2 separate regions of the Homo sapiens genome follow, and region 1 is linked to region 2. Evidence: fine-mapped expression QTL. A gene starts in region 2. The other region holds a variant in brackets. All regions are shown on one strand. Distances are from middle to middle.

What was found. PIP is the estimated chance that this variant, and not a neighbour inherited with it, causes the effect. A credible set is the group of variants that fine-mapping cannot tell apart.
Region 1: its variant is the best candidate, but not a certain one, in a credible set for the expression of GPN1 in cerebellum (GTEx, PIP 0.63).

What each region holds. Positions count from the first base shown.
Region 1 is chr2:27,711,427-27,714,331 of GRCh38, forward strand. The region is part of intron 1 of LINC01460 (long intergenic non-protein coding RNA 1460); the gene reads right to left. Among named protein-coding and RNA genes, the nearest start is that of LINC01460, 2.9 kb to the right of the region's middle. The variant T/C (reference allele first, on the strand shown) is at 1,610.
Region 2 is chr2:27,627,743-27,630,647 of GRCh38, forward strand. It overlaps GPN1 (GPN-loop GTPase 1), which reads left to right and starts at 1,308. Exons shown (of 14, transcript NM_007266.4): 1 at 1,308-1,427; 2 at 2,117-2,210. The coding sequence starts at 1,317. CCDC121 (coiled-coil domain containing 121) reads right to left here and starts at 1,270. Exons shown (of 2, transcript NM_024584.5): 1 at 1,208-1,270; 2 at 1-175. The coding sequence starts at 57. RefSeq lists a silencer at 240-534 and enhancers at 983-1,042, 1,103-1,412, 1,453-1,552.

The DNA of each region.
Region 1 (2,905 bases), 84 kb after region 2:
CATTCACCAGAAAATTCAATTAAACAGGATTTCCCCACCATTTAGAATAAGCCACAGAACCACAGAATTACCAAGTTAAAAAAAAAAAGGCCTTGGGGATCATTTAATGGGATCCTTCATTGTACAGATGAGGAAACTGAGGTCCCAGAGAAAGGATATAACTTATTGAAGATTATTTAGCTCATTACTGGTATAACCAGAACTAGAAACTCCCAATCCAAACTGCTTTCTGCCACCTAAGAATTATTACAAAGCAGGAAATCTTTATATCCAGGGTTACCTGCAGGCTGAACTTAGCCTGCAGCAGTATTTTGTTTGGTTTGCACAGTATTTTAGAAGTTGAGAAATTTAATCTAAAATCCAAATTTGGTATTTATTTAAAAAAAAAATTGGAAACTCTGAACACACCGGGCCTGATATCCATAAAGGGGGCCTAAGTAGTAACAACTGCTCTAGACTGGGGACCTGGGGTCTAGACGCCACGTCCTGCCACTCCCTATCATTGTGCACCTGCCTTGCCTCACCCATGTCATGACCTGCCTGGCCCCTGCAGGCATTGGAATTTGGGCTCTCTGCTTCTGGGTGAAGGGCACTCCTCGGTTAATTTAAAAGAGCTCAAGTGAGCCAGATTGAAAAATAGTGGAGACCATGAGGAATCAGAAGCACTTGTGTTAAGTGCCAGGTTGTAGCACCGGGGTCCCAGCTGGCCCTGAGCAAGCTCAGATCAGGGGCTGGGAAAGACCTCTAGGAGCTTCTCATTTGGGTAAAAAATGTGAAAAGTTAAATAACCATAGGAGGCATGTCACTTGGCAAGATTGGAGGAATTGGCAGAGTGAATGGAACAGGCAAGATGTGCTAACGCTGCTCAAAGGGTCTATGTTCAAAGGAAGTCTCTAATGGAGGTGGGTCTTGGTTCAGATGTCAACCCATTTTAGAGGATGGAGAGACTATGGGCAGAGAAAACAGCCACGAAGCTACTGGGAACGTTGGAGCTGAGGGCTAGCAATAGATGACTACAGATGGGAAAAGGAAGGAAGAGTTGGATACCAGAGCAAGACCCCAAGGGAGGCATGCACAGGGTTTGGTGCCTACATGCAGGTAGAAGAGGAAAGGAGAAGAGTCAAAGTTGATGAAAGCTTTGTGCCTGGGTGAGAATGGTCATGTACCAAACAGAAAAGGGAAACCAGCTGGGAAAGCTGCTTTGTGGGAAGATGAGGAACTCATTTTTAGATATGTTGAGTTTGAGATGACAACAGGGCTTAAGTTTAGAGTTGTCCAATGGGCAGCTGAAATTGGGACTGGGAGTCAAGAGGTCAGAGCTGGTAACCTAGAGGAGACAACTGGAACCACCAAAAGCAATGAGGTCCCTCTCCCAGAGGCAGAAGGCCAGGAATAGGGAACTGAGGGCAGCATGATAAACACTGGATAATAGGCACCCTTGAAAAAAAAAAACTCAGGGCTGGGCATGATGGCTCACACGTGTAATCCCAGCACTTTGGGAGGCCAAGGCGGGCAGATCACTTGAGGTCAGGAGTTCGAGACCAGCCTGGCTAACATGGCAAAACCCCGTCTCTACTAAAAATACAAAAATTAGCCGGGAGTGGTTGTG[T/C]ATGCTTGTAATCCCAGCTACTTGGGAGGCTGAGGGGCAGGAGAATCACTTGAACATGGGAGGTGGAGGCTGCAGTGAGCTGTGCCACTGCTCTTCAGCCTGGGAGACAGAGCAGGACTCCATCTTACAAAAAAAAAAAAAAAAAAAAAAAGCTCAGGAAAGGAAGAGGAGCCAGCACTAGAGAAGGAGCAATCAGAGGGGCAGGAAGAGAACCAAGCTGGAGTAAAACTGCAGACATCTCCCAAGGCAGGCAGAAGGCATTAGGACAGTAACCAGAGGGCACGCCAGAGAAAATAGAAGCTCTAATAAAGACGGAGGAAGGCGAATTTGCAGGTGGTAGGGACGGAGTCCGTGGGGTGGATGAGACTGTGGAACCCTTTTTAACACCTGTGGGAAAAGGGGCTGTGGACTGAAGACCAGGCTGGCCTCCAAGGCTGACTCCCAAGCTAGCTGCTCTGCATTTGCCTAGGGATGGGCTCTTGACTGCTCACTCATTATTCTGGAGATAGGATGGCTCATCTCACATCACTTCCTTATTTTGGACTCAGTTTACCCATCTTTATTTTTTATTTATTTATTTTTTTGAGATAAGTCTCGCTGTGTCACCCAGGCTGGACTGCAGTTGTGCCATCTTGGCTCACTGCAACCTCCATCTCCTGGCTTCAAGCAATTCTCGTGTCTCAGCCTCCTGAGTAGCTGGTATTACAGGCATGTTCCATCACGCCTGGCTAATTTTTGTATTTTTAGTAGAGACGGGGTTTCACCATGTTGGCCAGGCTGTTCTCGAACTCCTGACCTCAAGTGATCCACCCGCCTTGGCCTCCCAAAGTGCTGGGATTACAGGCGTGAGCCACTGTGCCCAGTCATAGTTTACCCATCTTTAGTTTAAAAAATGACCACAGGCCGGGCACGGTGGCTCACGCCTGTAATCCCAGCACTTTGGGAGGCCGAGGTGGGTGGATCACAAAGTCAGGAGATCGAGACCATCCTGGCTAACACAGTGAAACCCCGTTTTTCTACTAAAAATACAAAAATTAGCCAGGCGTGGTGGCGGGCGCTTGTAGTCCCAGCTACTCCAAAGCCTGAGGCAGGAGAATGGCATGGACCCGGGAGGCGGAGCTTGCAGTGAGCCGGGATCAAGCCACTGCCCTCCAGCCTGGGCAACAGAGTGAGACTTCGGTCTCAAAATAAATAAATAAATAAACAAAATAAATATAAATAAATAAATAAATAAAAACGACCACAAAACTTTATTGGATGCTGCCCACCATGAGGGGCAACAGACAAGTGTGAGTT
Region 2 (2,905 bases):
CAGTAGCTGTTTCCGCTGGGTTTGAGCTTGTTTTATATGCTTGTTCAGATCCGTCATTTCCGCCACTATCTTTTCTTTAAGCCTTGTCTCTACCTTTGTTAGCTTCTCTGGCTTGACAAAATTATTTATTAGACTATGATACGGTGGAAGGAGCCTTCTGGGGCCCTCAGCAAACCTGAAAGAACAAACGAGACATTCCTCTGTCAGTTAATGAAACTTTAGGAAGTAAGTGCACAACTGTCCTTCATTCATACAAGAGAATATTTCTGAGCACCAGAATGTTCCAGACATTATGCAAGGTGTGGGGAATCCAGCTAGTGGTAAAGGATGAGGAATGTAGCTCGTCATTTACAACGTGCATTCACTACAACCCTGGGAGGTATTACCTCAGTTTTAAAAAAGGAGAAAACAGGTTCAGAGAGTTTAAGTGACTTGCCCATGACTCACACCACTAGCAAGTGGCAGAGCCTGGGTATTAAAGCCAGATCTTATGACTTACTGAACACTGTTTGCAGCTACAAAGGGTCACAGAAACAGACTGGGTGGTCAGGAGTAGAAATAATTTTCTAGGCTCTTTCATCATCTTTCCTGAGTTTCTGAGGGACCTTCAGTGACTGGAGGGGAGGAAGCTCCCCTCCAGTACCTACTTGCACCTGGAATCCAAGCATTCATCCTGAAGGTCACGGCAACTGTGTAGTTCACTGAGGGTGACTGCCAAGGAATGAGCGCTAGCATCAGGAACCTGCGTCTGCAACTCGCGGGAACAATGTGCAAGTGTGGAAAGCTCCCGTAGTTTATTCGTTCGGTGCTCAAAGGGTCTCGGTGCTGCCCAGCAACCCTGGAGACTGCACCCTGCTCCAGTCCCGGCTGGTCCAGCCCTGAACTGTTTAACCGCCTCGGCTACCGAATAAGCCCGAGCAGCCGGTCCTCCAGTGGCTCCGCTCCCCGTTCTCTGTGGGCTCAAAATGACAGGCATGCTCCTCGTTTTCTTGCTGTGTGAGCCCTGCCCTCGGGACCCCATCTCTTCTGGCCTTCCTCCGGGAGACAAAAGCCCTCCCAGGCTGCAGAGATCAGCGCCCTTTTCCTAGCTCCCTTCAGCCTTCCTCTCGCTTGCTCAGCGCCCCCACTTCCTCGCCACTGTCACTAGTTGACTCATCAGCCCTGCCCGACGCTAAGAAGATGCCCTGGCAACCGCCGCGCCCCTCACCCGCTCCTTTCTGACGCTGTGGTGGTTTTCGTTCGCAGCCCAGAACATTGCGGAAGTTTCTCTACCCATGCGGTGTCTCTATGGTCGGGTGGGTGGGGCCAGGAGGAAGATGGCGGCGTCCGCAGCTGCCGCTGAGCTCCAGGCTTCTGGGGGTCCGCGGCACCCAGTGTGTCTGTTGGTGTTGGGAATGGCGGGATCCGGGAAAACCACTTTTGTACAGGTGACGTACACAGCATGGGTGTAGTAGGGGAGCGCAAAAGGTTGCCTCCGGCAGGCGGAAGGCCAGGAAGAAAGGGAGGGAAGAGGATTTGGAGGGTACCGGCGCATGGCTTTCGGGGGCTTCCCATCAACTTTAGTTCCTTCCCCGGCAAAGCCTCCTCGGGCCCTAGCCAGGTTAATTAAGGCTCTCTTCTGCGCACCTTCAGGGCATACTCGGTCCAGCTTACCACGTTGTACAGGAATTGTCTTGCTGATAAAATTGCGTTTCTCGGAGGCAAGTTACAAGTAACTTTAAAGATTAATACAGTGCTAGCACACAGGTTTTGGTGAAGATTTGCCAAATATTTCTTGCACGCCTGTCATGTTCCATTCACTGGGGATATAGCGAAAATGAGGTTGACAAGATTCATTCGTGGGGCCAAATATTTAATGGAGGAGATAGAGAAAACCCACATACGAAGAATCAAAACAAGTAAACAAGTGACTACGAGTAGGGGAAGCTTTGTTAGATGGGTGATGAAGAAAGGTAGCATTTGAACTGAGAGTTGTATCTTGGAGGTGGACATGGTGGATATTTCAGGTAGAAGAAAATCTAAGTGCAATATTCTTAAGGCATGGGTGTTAAAGGAATGGAAGTTCTCTCTTGTCCCCTCTTTGTCTCCTTCCAACCCTCTCCCCATATCTCTGCAGAGGCTCACAGGACACCTGCATGCCCAAGGCACTCCACCGTATGTGATCAACCTGGATCCAGCAGTACATGAAGTTCCCTTTCCTGCCAATATTGGTGAGTAAACCAGTAACATAACTTGTGTGCAGTGCTTTAAAGAGAATGGAAAAGGCCAGGCGTGGTGGCTCACGGCTGTAATCTCAGCACTTTGGGAGGCCGAGGCAGGTAGATCACGAGGTCAGGAGTTCAAGACCAGCCTGGCCAAGATGGTGAAACTCCATCTCTACTAAAAATACAAAAAATTAGCCAGGCACGGTGGCAGGCACCTGTAATTCCAGCTACTCGGGAGGCTGAGGCAGGAGAGTTGCTTGAACCCGGGTGGCAGAGGTTGCAGTGAGCCAAGATCGTGCCACTGCACTCCAGCCTGGTCAATAGAGTGAGACTCTGTAAAGCCTCCAGCCTGCCAGTCTTCAGTGCCTTCTTTTTTCATGTTTTCTAAACTATCTACTTTCATTTCCTTTGGATTTGCTTGCATTCCTAAACAGCTTAGGTTTTTTTTTTTTTTTTTTTTTTTTTAGACAGAGTCTCTGTCACCCAGGCCAGAGTGCAGTGGCGTGATTCACAGGTCACTGCAGCCTCAACATCCCAGGCTCAAGTGATCCTCCCACCTCAGCCTCCTGCCGCTATGCTGGGCTAGTTTTGTTTTGTTTGGAGAGACAAGGCCTCTCTATGTTGCCCAGGCTGGTCTTGAACTCCTGGGCTCAAGTAATCCTCCTGCCTTGGCCTCCCAAAGTGCTGGGATTATAGGTGTG